2 separate regions of the Homo sapiens genome follow, and region 2 is linked to region 1. Evidence: fine-mapped expression QTL. Tissue or cell type: fibroblasts. Region 1 holds a variant in brackets; the other region holds the start of a gene. All regions are shown on one strand. Distances are between the middles of the regions.

What was found. PIP is the estimated chance that this variant, and not a neighbour inherited with it, causes the effect.
Region 2: DIMT1 starts here. The variant in region 1 is fine-mapped to the expression of DIMT1 in fibroblasts (GTEx, PIP 0.95).

The regions. Positions count from the first base shown.
Region 1 is chr5:62,094,644-62,102,999 of GRCh38, forward strand. The region is part of intron 1 of LOC124900610 (a long non-coding RNA gene); the gene reads right to left. Among named protein-coding and RNA genes, the nearest start is that of KIF2A, 210 kb to the right of the region's middle. The variant C/A (reference allele first, on the strand shown) is at 3,647.
Region 2 is chr5:62,399,299-62,407,654 of GRCh38, forward strand. DIMT1 (DIM1 rRNA methyltransferase and ribosome maturation factor) reads right to left here and starts at 4,607. Exons shown (of 12, transcript NM_014473.4): 1 at 4,396-4,607; 2 at 3,975-4,048; 3 at 2,738-2,824. The coding sequence starts at 4,474. RefSeq lists an enhancer at 4,528-4,817.

The DNA.
Region 1 (8,356 bases):
TTATCATCCTATGGAACTTGAGGAGCAGTAAACATGAGTCAAGAGAAAATTAGTTAATGAGTTAAAGATACTTTTATAAACTTTGCATTTTTCTTCTATTACAGGTTAGGCATCTATGAAATTTTAAATTTGACTGTATGGTAATTTGTGCAAAATGAAAGTAGGACTTACTGGTAATTCTAGAAGAATTTTCCAAGTCACCAGAAAGAGTATTGAAAACAAATCTTGGCTGGCCCACCCTGAATCTGAGAGTATCACTGGAAAGATTAGACTGGTTCCGAAACATGACAGATGCCCAATAGCTGATTTTGGAAAATAGGAATATTTAAGTGGTATCAATATATGGGGCATGTGGGGGAAGGATCTAGTTGATGCCTGCAGCACAAAAAGAGGCTGCTTTTGCTCTGAAAATAATCAAATGGTATTGATGTTGGGTGAAGAAGAGGGAAAAATCTTGGTGGGGAAATCAACACAAAAGACCAGGAGTATCCCTACCTTTCTAAAGAGCCATAGAAGGCCAGGTACAGTGGCTCATGCCTGTAATCCCAGCACTTTGGGAGGCCGAGGCATGGATCACTTGAGGCCAGGAGATCGAGAGCAGACTGGCCAACATGGTGAAACACAGTCTCTACTAAAAATACAAAAATTAGCTAGGCATGGTGGCAGGCACCTGTAATCCCAGCTACTCTGGAGGCTGAGACAGGAGAATTGCTTGAACCCAGCAGGTGGAGGTTGCAGTGAGCCGAGATGGCACCATTGCACTCCAGCCTGGGTGGCAGAGCGAGACTCTGCTTCAAAATAAAATAAAATAAAAAGCCACAGAAGAGGAGTGATCATGACTTTGAGCAATCTACACAAGGTTGCCTATTGCTTTGGCCCTCTGCCCTGCTGGAAGGAAGAAAGGGAGGGAAGGAGAGAGAAGGGAAGAAAGGAGGGAGGGAGGACAGGAAGGAAGGAAGAAAGAAAGAAAGGGAGGGAGAAACAGAGAAGGGAAGGAGAGAGGGAAAGAAGGAAGGAAGGGAGGAAAGGAGGAAATTTTAGGAGATTTGTTCAAATGTCTGATAGGAAAGAATGTATGTCCATAAGCTCACCACTTATACAAAGGTTAGGAAAGTTTTCCCAGAATAACAGATCATGGAGATAGATTAAAATGAGAGGGGAAAAAAATCAGATTGGTTTAAAACCATCAAAAAAATGTAAAGTGGAAGCTTTTAGCATTTGAACATCATACTATCATCAATCAGCAGCCTGATTGGTTAAGCCTGAGTGCTCTGTCATCCCCTCAATGGTATGTTTCCACTCCGTTTTGGATTAGTTCTAGGATTGCTGTGACAAAGTACCACAAACAGGGTGTCTTACAACAACAGAAATTTATTGGTTCACAGTTCTGGAAGTTAGAAGTCTGAAATCCAGATATGCACAGGGCCGTGCTGCCTCTGAAACCTGTAGGAGAGAATCCTTCCTTGCTCCTTTAGTTGATGATATTGCCAGCAGCCAATGGCATTGCTTGGCATGGAGATGTATCACTCCAATATCTGCCCCCATTATCGCATGGCTGACTTCTCTCGTGTTTCTCCACATCTGCTTCCCTCTGTGTATTCTTGTGTCCAAATTTCCTTCTACCAAAAAATACACCAGTCACATGGGATTAAAAGCCCATCCTTCTACAAAAAACTCAAACAAATTTACAAGAAAAAAACAAACAACCCCATCAACAAGTGGGTTAAGGATATAAACAGGCACTTTTCAAAAGAAGACATTTATGCAGCCAACAGACACATGAAAAAATGCTCACCATCACTGGCCATCAGAGAAATGCAAATCAAAACCACAAGGAGATACCATCTCACACCAGTTAGAGTGGTGATCATTAAAAAGTCAGGAAACAGGTGCTGGAGAGGATGTGGAGAAATAGGAACACTTTTACACTGTTGATGGGACTGTAAACTAGTTCAACCATTGTGGAAGACAGTATGGCGATTCCTCAAGGATCTAAAACTAGAAATACCATTTGACCCAGCCATCCCATTACTGGGTATATACCCAAAGGATTATAAATCATGCTGCTATAAAGACACATGCACACGTATGTTTATTGTGGCACTATTCACAATAGCAAAGACTTGGAACCAACCCAAATGTCCAACAATGATAGACTGGATTAAGAAAATGTGGCACATATACACCATGGAATACTATGCAGCCATAAAAAATGATGAGTTCATGTCCTTTGTAGGGACATGGGTGAAGCTGGAAACCATCATTCTCAGCAAACTATCGCAAGGTGAAAAAACCAAACACTGCATGTTCTCACTCATAGGTGGGAATTGAACAATGAGAACACTTGGACACAGGAAGGGGAACACCACTCACCGGGGCCTGTTATGGGGTGGGGGGAGGGGGCAGGGATAGAATTACTAGATATACCTAATGCTAAATGACGAGTTAATGGGTGCAGCACACCAACATGGCACATGTATACATATGTAACTAACCTGCACGCTGTGCACATGTACCCTAGAACTTAAAGTATAATAAATATATATAATATATAAAAAATTGTAAAAAGCCCATCCTACTCCAACATGATCTTAGCTTCACTAACCACATCAGTAACCACCCTATTTCCAAATAAGATCAAATTCTGAGGTACAGGTGATTGGACTTCAGTATATCTTTTAGGGGGGCACAATTCATGCCATAATACCTTATCTCATAAAGATTATCAGGAGAGTTATACAGAAAAATTAGCGAACAATTATAAAAGTCAGCTATCGGGTATCTTAATTACTTTTTGTCACCTGAATTCCTTCAGTTTGTTGGGGTACAAGTTAATAGAGTCATGTTTATTAAAGCTTAATTTAGTCTCACATCCAGGAGTCTACCCATGACATGACGATGATGATGGTGATGATGATGATGGGGATGGTGAGGATGGTAATCACGGTGGCAGCTAACGCTTACTGAGTGCTCATTATGAGCCAGGTGGTATTCTAAATTCTTTATCTGTATTAATTCATTTATTCCTTATGACCACCCATGAGGAAGTTTCCTATTATTTTCCCCATTTTACAGATGAGGAAAGTGAAGCACAGAGAGGTTAGATGAAGCAGGTCAGCCCGCAGAAATTCCACTACAGCATCTCTATAAGTATAGCCTCCTACTCTGAAGACCTCAATATGATCACACTGTGATACGGTTTGGCTCTGTATCCCCACCCAAATCTCACCTTGGATTGTAATAATCTCCACTTGTCAAGGGTGGGACCACGTGGAGACAACTGAATCATGGGGGGCAGTTTCACCCATGCTGTTCTCATGATAGTGAGTGAGTTCTCACGAGATCTGATGGTTTTATAAGGGGCTTCCCCCCTTAGCTCAGCACACATTTTCTCTCCTGCTGTCCTGTGAAGAGGTAGTGTCCACCATGATTGTAAGTTTCCTCAGACCTCCCCAGCCATGCAGAACTGAGTCAATTAAACCTCTTTTCTTTATCAATTACCCAGTCTTGGGTATTTCTTCATAGCACCATGAAAACAGACTATTACACACTGAAACCTAGAGCTTCCTGACTTAGAGAACAATTTTCACCCACACAACCCCCTAAAATTAATGCAGGATGGAACTACCTAGATGGTCTTTTATAT[C/A]TTTACATCAGCCCCCATTTCCCTTCCTATATGAAAATGAATATGTACACACCTGCCTACATGTGAGGCAATACACAAGGCATCTTGACTTACACAGGCTGAACCTCAAATGCTATCTCAATGTTATTTTTATACCTGTAGAATGGATCCACTTCATACTAAGTTTAGATATAGGAGTGTGAATTCCTTCCCCAATAGGAAAAAAAAAATTTTGAAGTTACTAGCCTAGGAACAATACATTTAAAAGTGTGTATTGTTGTGGATTATTTAGATCTTGAAGAGCCAGAGTGATTTACAGCAATTAAGATATCAAGAGAGACAGATATCATTCTCTTGAGATTTCTTGGATGAATTAGAGGAGCATCCTGATTTCACTTGTTTGTCTGTCCGTGTATTTAATTAGTTCCACCAGGCAACAAAACAAATGCTTTATTGTATACTCATCAGATCTTCAATGTCCTAGGATGACTTTATGTAAAAACAGCCATCTTGAAAAATACAAAATAACATAAATGCACTTGTCTGAGCCTGAATGTTAGGAACAGAAACCCATGTGTAATGTAAACATTTTTTCATAAAATTTAAAAGTTTAACATCATGTGCATTCAATCATAATTAAAAAACAAGTAAGTTGATAAATTATGCAGAAAGCCACCAAATATCCAGAAAGATCAGCCAGAAAGGAATATCAACCATGAGACCCAACCTCCTTTTCCTCTTTTACCCTCAAACTTGGTCTTTTAGGAAAAGGAGGCTGATTGACCAGTAGCGATCTCAACCTTAACTTGACCCATCTCTTTCCCTGGCATCTTACAAATTATGGTAGCAATAAATAAGTATCCACACTTGCTCATATTCTCTCTCTCTCTCTCTCACTCTCCCTCTCTCTCTCTCTCACACACACACACGCACACACAAAATAACCAAACACACCTGCCCCTGTACAAATACCCTGTTGTAGACTCACGCATGTAGACGAGTATATTTTCAGGTAACAACGAAAAAAAATGGTGCTCCTGAACTTAACTTGGAAATAATGTCCACGATTGCAATTGCAGATAATCTTAGACAGCTAAAAAACTGGAAATTGAAAACAATTCATCAATTTCTCAGACCAGGCCTGAATAAATCTCTATAAACCTAAGTAATGTTTAGTCTCATCTTCAAGGGTTTGATGCCTGAATTTCCTTTTTATCCATAAAATGATAGTCTTGTTAAATTAAGACTATCTTTTTTTTTTTTTTTTGAGACGTGTTCTCACTCTGTCACCCAAGTTGGAGTGCAGTGGTACAACCTCAGCTCACCGCAGTCTCAACCTCCCCAGGCTCAGGTGATTCTCCCACCTCAGCCTCCCAAGTAACTGGGACTACAAGGTGTGTGCCACCACACCCAGCTAAATCTCCACCCTTCTTAATGGGGAAAACCATCATACAGCATTTCTGGGTTGGAAGCCCCTTATAGATCCCTCCTTGTCCCTTCCCTTCCACCTTTATCTCTCACCACACAGCCTGCAAATAATAAAGTTTCTCAATTACCTCAAATTTCTAATTGACCTCAAGTAGCCCAGCCCTAATCTAACTTTACTCATCTCCTATTCAAAGGTTCCCATTCCATATAATAAATACACAATCTCTCAGAGTAAATTATAAACATTTCATGCTTAAAAGTGATGGCAGTCAGAATCAAGAACCTTAATGGAAGGGCAAAATATGGAAGAAAGTCATTAGATTATAGAGAAAGAGAAAACCATCTTTTCCCTATCATTTTTCATTTTTTCATCTAAAGCAGGATTTCTCAAATAATCCTCTACAGTATTTTAAATAATGCTAATATATATCAGAATTTCAACTTTTAGAGATAGAAAACCCCACTACAGTGGCTTAAATGAATAAGGAATTTATTATCTCAATATTTTTTAAATTTATTTTTCTTTTTTTTTAAGAGACAAGGTCACCCGGGCTGGAGTGCCATGGTGTGAGTATAACTCACTGCAGCCTCGAACTCCTGGGCTCAAGTCATCTTCCCACCTTGGCCTCCCAAGGCACTGGGATTACAGATGCATGTCACCACACCCAGCTATTGTCTCAATGAACAAGAAGCCCTGGGGCAGTCAACACAGGCAAGGCAAGACTTGTACAGGGTTGCAGTGCTGCAATCATCACCCTGATTTCACCCAACATTCTGCTCCAACCTTCTTGTAGCAGACGATTTTGGTGTCCCATATCTGTAATTTCAGCCACAGTTGTAGTGGACAGTTTCATGTGAGCTCATGACAGAATCTCGTTTCAAAAATAAGCCACATGGCTTTTTAGTTTCTGCCTCAGGCCTTTCTCCAACTCTGAGAGGAACTTCTTAATCTTCATGCATGCACTATGTGCAGGGAGGTAAAGTCCCCAGGAGCAACCAACAGTCAAAGAGAAGCAAGTGGACTGGCAATTTTAGGGGGAATTCTGTATGTGTCTTGGGGGTCCTGGTAGAACCTAATCCCATTAGTTACAGCATTGACCTCAATGAATGCACCCTGATATTGGCTTTTCCTCCCTTTCTGCCTCACTCTATTTGCTCACATTTGCTTCTGGGATTACCTCCCAAATAAACTACCTGAACTCGAAGTTCTTTTCTCAGGCTCTGTTTCTGAGGGAACAGGAAATAAATTGCTACTGAAATTGGCCCCAGAGAGGCAGAGTTTGAGGACTGGAATTCTTGAACTGGATCGTTCACAGGTGTATAGCCACAGGACCCAATGCTAGTGGTAAGTGGGGTAGAAATAAGCTGTAGCAGAGTGTAACCTGCCAATTATGAAAAGTCTCACCTTTTGTGTATTGGAATAAGAACCAGGTGGAAGGGAAAGTATTTGGTGATGCAGAAGCCCTACATTTAAATGGTGTGGGGGCAGTGGTAATAACTAGGATTGTGGAGTTGGCTGGGTTTTGTTACCTGCCTTGGAAGCCTTAGAGAAAGATAATGACAGATTTGAGAGGCCAATTACTAACTTAGGGCTTGCTGAAAAAAGTCAGAAGGCCTCCATGGCAGCACTTTAAGGGTTCATCTGCTGCAACTGGATGGTTCATTAAGCTAAAATCAGGTTCAGGTTTTATCATATGGGTTCAGCATTGACAGGTCTTCCATGCTAATGTCAGGGTCCTGAGAGAGAAGTGGGACTCTGGGACCTTGGATGGGGACATTGGAGCACCTGAAAAACATGGCACCTCCCCACCAGATTCCCCTGAAATCAAGCGTCTCTGCCCCTTGCTAGAGGAAAGCAATTGCACCTTGCCTGGAGAATATGCAAAGCTTTGCCTGGGATGAATGCTTTGCAAAATTATGTTTGTCCTCCTTAAGATGAGCCCATGCCTCCCCTCACTGCTTCTGGACCAATAACTGGTCACACAGCCCCAGCAGAGAAATAGTCTCAGCTGTGGGAAGAAACAGCTTGCTCATCAAGAGAACTGCAAGACCACCTGGAGCCAGGGGAACACGTGTGAGAAGGGAACTTAAGATTTTCAGGGAGGGGCAGCGAAGAAAAGGAGAGGGGTCTGAATATAAAACTGAAAGAGAGGTTATAGACACAGGAGCACTCTTACTATGCCTTTATTTTTTTTTAGAGGTGGGGAGCAATGAGATTTTTTTTTTTTAAACAGTCTGGCTCTATCACTCAGGTTGGAGTGCTGTGGTGTGATCTTGGCTCCCTGCAGCCTCAACCTCCCTGGGCTCCTGCCATCCTCCCACCTCAGTCTCCCAAGTAGCTGGGACTACAGGCATGCATCACCATGCCCAGCTAATTTTTAAATTTTTGTAGAAGTGGGGTTTCGCCATGTTGCCCAGGCTGGTCTCCAACTCCTGAGCTCAACCAGTCTACCACCTCAGCCTCCCAAAGTGCTGGGATTACAGGTGTGAGCCATCATGCCCGGTCATGCCTTTGATCTTAATATACCACTGAGTTGGCCCTTAAAGCTTAGAGATGATATGACCTGTAAGTAAAATGAAATGCCAAAACTGCCTTTCAGAGTATTGAGGAAGGTGTTAGTTCTGTCCCTCTAAAGAACCCTGACTAATACAGATTCTGGTACCAGGAGTGGTTCTAGAAGAACAGAATATTAAGGATGGAGTTCTTTCATTGGTTTTGGAGTTTCTGGAGTTGGCTGCTTAATATGATTAGACCCAAAAATGCTAAGAACTCTACTACTTTTTTGTTTGTTTGTTTGTTTTTGAGATGGACTCTCGCCCTGTCACCCAGGCTGGAGTGTAATGGTGTGATCGTGGCTCACTGTAAACCCTGCCTCCTGGGTTCAAACCATTCTTCTGCCTCAGCCTCCCAGGTAGCTGGGATAACAGGCACCTGCCACCATGCCCAGCTAATTTTTGTATTTTTAATAGAGATAGGATTTCACCATGTTGGCCAGGCTGGTCTCAAACTCCTGACCTCGTTATCCGCCCGCCTCAGCCTCCCAAAGTGCTGGGATTACTACAGGTGTGAGCCACTGTGCCCGGCCCAGGACTCTACTTCTAATAGTTGGCATAAACTGTCTAGGAAGTTATGCAAAATAAATGCATTTGACATTCCTGATTCCCTGCTTGTGAGAGGCAAGGAGTTTAGTGACTCTATACATAATACTTTTGACCATATGTGGAGAACCAAAGAACATAATGAAGATGGTTGGTTGCTCCTAAGTTCAGTGGACAAAGTGACGAAAGAAAATTATGAACTCA
Region 2 (8,356 bases), 300 kb after region 1:
TCTACTAAAAATACAAATTTAGCTGGGTACAGTGATGGGCATCTGTAATCCCAGCTACTCGGGAGGCTGAGGCAGGAGAATTGCTTGAAACTGGGAGGCAGAGGTTGCAGTGAGTCGAGATCGCACCATTGCACTCCAGCTTGGGCAAGAGACAGAGACTCTTGTCTCAAAACAAAAACAAAAACAACACAAAATATTAGCTGGGCCTAGTGGTGGGCGCCTGTAATCCCAGCTACTCAGGAGGCTGAGGCAGGAGAATTGCTTGAACCCTGGAGGCGGAGGTTGCCATGAGCCAAGACTGTGCCACTGCATTCCAGCCTGGGTGACAAAGTGAGACTCCATCTCAAAAAAAAAAAAAAGCCGGGTGTGAGGCTGAGGTGGGCGGATCATGAGTTCAGGAGACTGAGACCAGCCTGGCCAACATGGTAAAACTCTGTCTCTACTAACAAATTCAAAAATTATCTGGGCGTGGCGGCACGTGCCTGTAATCCCAGCTACTCAGGAGGCTGAAGCAGGAGAATTGTTTGAACCAGGGAGTCAGAGGTTGCAGTGAGCCGAGATCGCGCCACAGCACTCCAGCCTGGCAACAGAGCGAGACTCCATCTCAAAAACAAACAAACAAACAAACAAACACCACCACCCAGAAAAGTAGACAACCAGATTATGTGAGAGTTCTACTCATATAATCAATAGAATCATGTTTCATCTGTCTCCATGCTTTGTAATTCAACAGATGATGAAAAAAATACACTACATGTCTCTGCAGTCAGTGTTGTTAGAGAAGAGCGTACAATGCAATTGCTCTTACTGTTAGTATGTCACATCTACTGAGATACACAATACATGGCATAGATAACTTCTCAAGTAAATGAAAATGGATGTCAAATAAGGCCGAAATTGAAATTTTATTGCAATTTCAGCTGAGGTTTCACTGACTTTATTTTTATTAAAAAATAATTTTTTTTAAGAGATGGGGTCTCACTCTGTTGCCCAGGCTGGAGTGAAGTGGCGCTATCATAGCTCACTGCTGCCTCGAAGTCTTGGGCTCATGGGATCCTCCCACCTCACCTTCCTGTGCAGCTGGGACCACAGGTGTGTACCAGCACACCAGGCTAATTTCCTTTCTTTATTTTTAATAGAGACGGGTCTCTCTATGTTGCCCGGGCTGGTCTCAAAACTCCTGGGCTCAAACAATCCTCCCACCTTGGCCTCCCAAAGTGCTGGGATTATAGGCGGGAGGCACCATGCCCAGCCTTTTTATTTTTTATAGAGATTGGGTCTCGCTTTGTTGCCCAGGCTGGTCTCAAGCTCATAGCTTTAAGCAATCTTCCTGCCTCAGCCTCCCAAAGTGCTGGGATTACAGATGTGGGCCACAGCTCCTGGCCCTACTTCTATATAGACCCTGTTTACATGGTAAACAATGTGTTTCTTACTCTGTTTGGCTCCCAGATCTATCTTTAGTTTTATTTTTATTTTTTGAGACAGGGTCTCACTGTGTCACCCAGGCTGTAGTGAAGTGGCAGGATCATGGCTCACTGGAGCCTCAACTTCCCAGGCTCAGGTAAACCTCCCACCTCAGCCTCCCTGCTAGCCAGGGCTACAGTCAGGCACCACCATGCCCAGCCAATTTTTTGTAGAGATGGGGTTTCACCATGTTGCCCAGGCTGGTCTTCAACTCCTAGGCTCAAGCCATCCACCCGCCTTAGCCTCCCAAAGTGCTGGGATTACAGGTGTGAGCCACCATGAAAGGCCCTCCCAGATCTATTATCCGCTTTTCTCTGCATCCTACAGATAATGCAGTTCAGCTCCCTTACCTTTCAACTTCTGGTTGGAATTGGCCAGTGAAAGGCACCAGCATTATAGGGTACAAAGGGGAGGCGTTGGGTATTTCCTTCCTAATTAAACTCCCTGTTGAGGCTGGGCATGGTGGTTCATGCCTGTAATCCCAGCACTTTGGGAAGCCAAAGTTGGCGGATCACCTGAGGTCAGGAGTTTAAGACCAGTGTGGCCAACATGGTGAAACCGCATCTCTACTAAAAATACAAAAATTAGCTGGTGTGGGGGCAGGTGCCTATAATCTCAGCTACTGGGGAGGCTGAGGCAGGAGAATCTCTTGAACCCAGGAGGCAGAGGTTGCTGTGAGCCAGGACTGCATCTCTGCACTCCAGCCTGGGGAACAGTGTGAAATTCCCTCTCCAAAAAAAAAAAAAAAAAAAAAAAATTCCCTGTTGAAATACCTAATGTGGTTTCTGTTTTCCTCACTGAAATATCTCATATTTTCCTTTTTTTTTTTTTTTTTTTTTGAGACAGAGTCTCACTCTGTCACCAGGCTGGAGTGCAGTGGTGCAATCCTGGCTCACTGCAACCTCTGCCTTCCGGGTTCAAGTGATTCTCCTGCCCCAGCCTCCCAAGTAGCTGGGACTACAGGCACCTGCCACCACACTCGGCTAATTTTTGTATTTTTAGTTGAGATGGGGTTTCACCATATTGCCCAGGATGGTCTCAATCTCTTGACCTCATGATCCACCTGCCTCGGCCTCCCAAAGTGCTGGGATTACAGGCGTGAGCCACCGCGCCTGGCTGAAATATCTCATATTTTCTAAGACAAAATTTCCAACAAGGGATCAGGAGTTACTACTAAAATAATAGCAATTAGTTAAAACATATTTAGATTGTAAACCAACTGAGCTTGCTAACATAGTCATTTGTGATACCAAACATTAAATCCCCTTTCTACCTTTTTTGCCTTTTCTAACAACTTTACAGTCATGTTGCCAGTTCCAGGTCCAACTTCCAGCACTACATCAGTTGGTCTTAAGGCAGCCTAAAAGCAAGCACAAACACTTTAGCTCTTCTGGCAACATCAGAACACAGAAGTTAATTTACACCTGAACATCTTTACTCATATGTGCTCCGATAAGAGCTCTTAATCTGACTCCATTTTTAGATTTCTTCATGATCTACGTGGTTAACAAAATTACCTCAATAACATTTGGTGCAAATGAAAATCTAAGACCTCTCCTAACTTGGAGGAATACTGTTCAACTTTAGGAGTCAGAAAAGCAGCAACAGCATTTCTGGGATTGGCATTCTGCTTTCTATCTGGAAATATTCCAATAGCCTCTTGTTACCTTCTCTGTTCGTATCAACAAGTTCAAATGGGAAAGGACTGTACGTGTTGGGCGAAGATTTTTCAATTTTCAACCCATGTATGGTTTCAAGGATGCAGAAGAGCAGAAACTGTACACAAAATTGAATGTCTGCACACAGCTCTAATATTCTACGGCCATAGCTTTCATCAGATGCTCAAAGGAAACTATGAGCTAAAAAGGTTAAAATAGTACATGACCCTTCTTTCTTTTTTTCTCAGTTTTCAAATGACACGAAGCCTGACAAGATCCTTTAACTATGTAATGCTCTTTCTACAGCTCCAGGATGCTTTCCTTGCTTTTAACCATAAGTGTAATCTGCACCGTGTGTATTTCACTTCCTAACACCCAATCATCCATAACCATAAGAGAACATCAATAACTCAGAAAGCAGTAATACTCCAAGCAATTTATATGTGGTACTAGCATACACCAAATAATTTATATGTAGTACTATATGTTTTTCTGGGGAACAAACTTTCTAATGTGTAGTTTAGACATAAATAGATGGAGTACATAAAAACTAAGTGATCAAAAAGGTGATTAGAAATAGAAGAATAATTATCTTGAACAAATACAAAGGTCCAGCTATAAAGTAGATAATCCACAAAAAGACACAGAATTGGGAACCAGGAGAAACTCAGACCCACAAAATGAAGCTTATCATGCAGAAGACAGCCCAAGAATCCTAGACAATTATTTGATTCATTCAACAAATATTTACAGAGCATCTAATTTACGGCAGGCAGACTTTCTGCGCTTATGTATTCATAGGAATAAAATTAATAAACCAACAACTCTCTCCCTTTCCTCTTCCACACCCACCTTATCGATAATGCTGTTAATAATGAGAGGATTTTTCAAAATGTGCTGCCCAATCCCCGTGTTGAACATGAGTCCTGTAAGAAAATACGAAACAGCATTAATTTTCCTACTGAGATTAGATATTAGGCAGTACCAGAGAAGAAAGCTGCATGGGTATGGGGAAGATTTCTGCGCCAACCAGGGCCACGAAACGTCACGCCAGGACTGACAAACTCTTTATAAGTTCATCCTCCAGCTGGAAAGGAAGTCAGCGGCGACGCGCAGGGCCTGCGGCCGAGTCGGGGACCCACCCCTGCCTTCCGCGCTCACGGGAGCGCGTCCTGACCGGCCTCTGCCGATCAGGTCTTGGTCCGCACCCCAGGCTAGGTCCTGCCGGAAGACCTGACCCGACCGACCCCAGCTTCCTCGCGGGGATCCGCACCTCCAGCGCTCTTCAGCTCCCGGCGCTGCTCCTGCCGCCCGCGGCGGCGGCCGATGGCCCCCGACTTGACCTTCGGCATCTCGGCAGAAAGCGGGCCCACAGGCCCGGGACGTCAAGGAGGACCAAAGAGGGCTAGCGTGAGAAAGCCACCACGTGGGGATCGCCGCCACGCGCCGCCCGCACCACTCTGGCCCAAGCGCCGGAGGGGCAAGGGTCCGCCCCCTCCCGTACGCTCTGAGCTCCTCCTCCAGAAAAAGGGCGGACCTTGGAGCCCACTGACTGCCGGGAATTGGAGTCACAGAGGGAGGAAGGCCGAACCGCGGGAGCCTACAGATCCCAGAAGACACCGCGCTACCGAGGACTGCAGTCTGGAGTTGGAGCCCTTGTCCCAACCAGGGCTGGATAAGAAGGTGTTGGTGTGGTGCTCTCGGTGTTGCGAAGGCTGTTTAAGTTATATGATGAGGTTAAGCCTATGGATGTTTTAGTAGCCTAGGTTCTGGGATCGCTGAGGTCCAAAGAAGTATTCACGTGCCTCGCTCCTGTTTTCCTGAAGCTTGTGGGGGTGGGAAACCCGGGATTTGGGGATGAGCTTGCTCTTTTGTGGGAATGCATTTTTTGCTGCTTGCCCTGGGGAAAAGAACTGCGAGAATGGAATTAACGTCTGGTTTCGCTAGGGCTACTGGTTGCTTCTACTAAGAATAGAAGAGCCGGGCGCGGAGGCTCACGCCTGTAATCCCAGCACTCTGGGAGGCAGAGGCGGGCGGATCACAAGGTCAGGAGATCGAGACCATCCTGGCTAACACGGGGAAACCCCGTCTCTACTAAAAATACAAAAAATTAGCCGGGCGTGGTGGTGGGCGCCTGTAGTCTCAGCTACTTGGGAGACTGAGGCAGGAGAGTGGCGTGAACCCAGGAGGCGGAGGTTGCAGTGAGCCGAGATCGCGCTACTGCACTCCAGCCTGGGCGGCAGAGCGAGACTCCGTCTCAAAAAAAAAAAAAAAAAAAAAGGAATAGAAGAATAATTATCTTAAACAGATACAAAGCTCCAGCTACAAAGTAGATAATCCACAAAAAGACAGAATTGAGAACCAGGAGAAACTCAGACCCACAGAATGAAGCTTATCGTGCAGAAGACAGCCCGTGAATCCTAGAAAATTATTTGATTCATTTAACAAATAATTCAACAAATTCCTTTTGTGCCTCATCATTCACTCCGTAAACATTTATTGAGCTCCAACTGTGTATCAAACACTGCTAGGGATTCTAAGTAAGAAACTTATTTCAAAGTGTATTATATTGACAGAGATGGACAGAAACTCCAAAACGCTGTAAATACGATAACGTATTGGTCGTTGTGACAGGACAGTGTACCTGACTATAAACTCCGTGTGTACCAGGGCCATAATATCCACATCTGTTTTGCCAGCCAGTGTAATGGCTCTTTTAAATTTTTCTGTGTGTATTCTGTTTGGTTGAAGAAATAGCTTCTTCCTGTCATTACTAAAGCTAACTCTCTTTTGAGCAATTCATTGTGTACATTCCCAAACCTTGGTCTTAGGCCCTTCTTTCTTTGATGTAGTTCTAAGTCAGAAAAAAAATCTCGTATACCCTAGTAGCATCTTCAAGTATATGTTTCATTTCATCAATCATTGTTATTCCACAATTCTAAAGAGTACACTGTGCTAGGCACTTCCAAATGTTAATAGGATGGACATGGCCTGGAGAGGTGGCTCATGCCTGTAATCCCAGCACTTTGAGAGGCCAAGGCGAGCGGATCACTTGAGCTGAGAAGTTTGAGATCAACCTGGGCAACAAAGTGAGACCCCGTCTCTACAAAAAATACAAAAATTAGCCAGGCGTGGTGGTGCAGGCCTGTAGTCTCAGCTACTCGGGAAGCTGAGGTGGGAGCCTCACTTGAGCCCGAGAATTTGTAGTGAGCCAAGATTGCACCAACCTGGGCGACAGCATGATACCCTGTTTAAAAAAAAAAAATTAACATGACACAAAACCCTGTGTGTGATTTGTTATTGTTGTTGTTGTTGGGTTTTTTGGTTTTGTTTTTTTGAGACGGTCTCACTCTGTCACCCAGGCTGGAGTGCAGCGGCATGATCTCAGCTCACTGCAACCTCCGCCTGCCGGGCTCAAGCGATGCTCTCACCTCAGCCTCCCGAGTAGCTGAGACGACAGACATGAATCATCTTGTCCAGCTAATTTTTGTAATTTTTGTAGAGGCGGGGTCTCACTTTGTTCCCCAGGCTGATCTCAAACTTCTCAGCTCAAGTGATCTGCCTGCTTTGGCCTCTAGGTTGCATTTCTTCTGTGAAATAAAAGGCAAGTTTTTCTGTAGAGAAGGAGCTGTGGAGGTGGTAGGACAAGGGGCATGAGTGCGGAGAAGGTTTGAAGATCCTTTATGCGCAATGGGAGAGGAAGATTAGAGGGAACTCAAGAAGACATGGCATGTCTTCCAGCTAAATGTGGAGCCCAGTATCTCCAATGTGTACTGCTGTGTAACCACAGCCTGGAGACAAGAGCAGAGAAGGCAAAATTGTTCTTTTGATTCATCAATGAATGACCACTATTGCTCCCTAGAATAGCATTGTAGGCCTTTCAAATTAAGTTCCTATTTACCTTACTTATTTACTTCCCAACGTTATCAAGTTCCTTTTTCTTCCTTAAACATCTTTATACCTCGGCTTTGTGAGTGCTCTTCCTTTTGCATTCTCGACCTTCCCCTGGCTAACTTTTGTTTGCTGTTAAAGACACAACTCATATATATAATATAAATATATATATTTAAATATAAATATAAACATATATAAATATAAATATATATATATATATATATTTTAAGATAGAGCCTTGCTCTGTCACCCAGGCTGCAGTGCAGTGCCATGATCTTGGCTCACTGCAACCTCAGCCTCCCAGATTCAAGCTATTCTCATGCCTCAGCCTCTCAAGTAGCTGGGATTGCAGGCGTGCACCACCACCACGCTGGCTAATTTTTTTTTTTTTTTTTGTATTTTTAGTAGAGATGGGTTTTCACCATGTTGCCCATGCTGGTCTTGAACTGGCCTCAAGTGGTCTGCCCGCCTTGCCCTCCCAAAGTGCAGGGATTACAGGCATGAGTTACCGTGCCTGGCTTCAAATGTTATATTTTTAAAATAGTGGCCCAGGCTGGGTTGCAGTGAGGCAGACGTTGCAGTGAGTTGAGTTTGCTCCACTGCACTCCAGCCTAGGTGACAGAATAAGACTCCGTCTCAAAGAAAGAAAGAAAAGAGGGAGGGAGGGAGCGAAGGAAGGAAAGGAAGAAGGAAGGAAGGAAAGGAAGAAGGAAGGAAGGAAGGAAGGAAGGAAGGAAGGAAGGAAGGAAGGAAGGAAGGAAGGAAGGAATCCTGAATACTATAAACAAGATTCTTCTATGAATGTATTCTTTAGAATGATCTAAATATGTGGCTGGGCATGGTGACTCACGCCTATAATCCCAGCACTTTGGGAGGCCAAGGCGGGTGGATCATTTGAGGTCAGGAGTTCGAAACCAGCCTGGTCAACATAGTGAAACCCTGTCTCTACTAAAAATACAAACATTAGCTGGGTATGGTGGTGTGCACCTGTAATCCCAGCTACTCTGGAGGCTGAGGCAGGAGGCAGAGGTTGCGGTGAGCTGAGATTGCGCCACTGCACTCCAGTCTGGGCAACAGAGTGAGACCCTGTCTCAAAAACAAAAACAAACAAACAAAAAAGAATGATCTAAATATTTTTAGATAATCATAAAGACTATGTTAGATTAATACAATTATTTAAAGAAGATGATTATGGTCTCTGTTTAATACCAGCATAGGTGTAAACCTTGTCAGTGAATATTACATAATTGATACCTCTCAAAAACATTTGTCAGATAAATGTTTCCACATCATTACCATTGTTAAAAGAGAAACTAAGGCACAGTAAAATCTTAAAATGT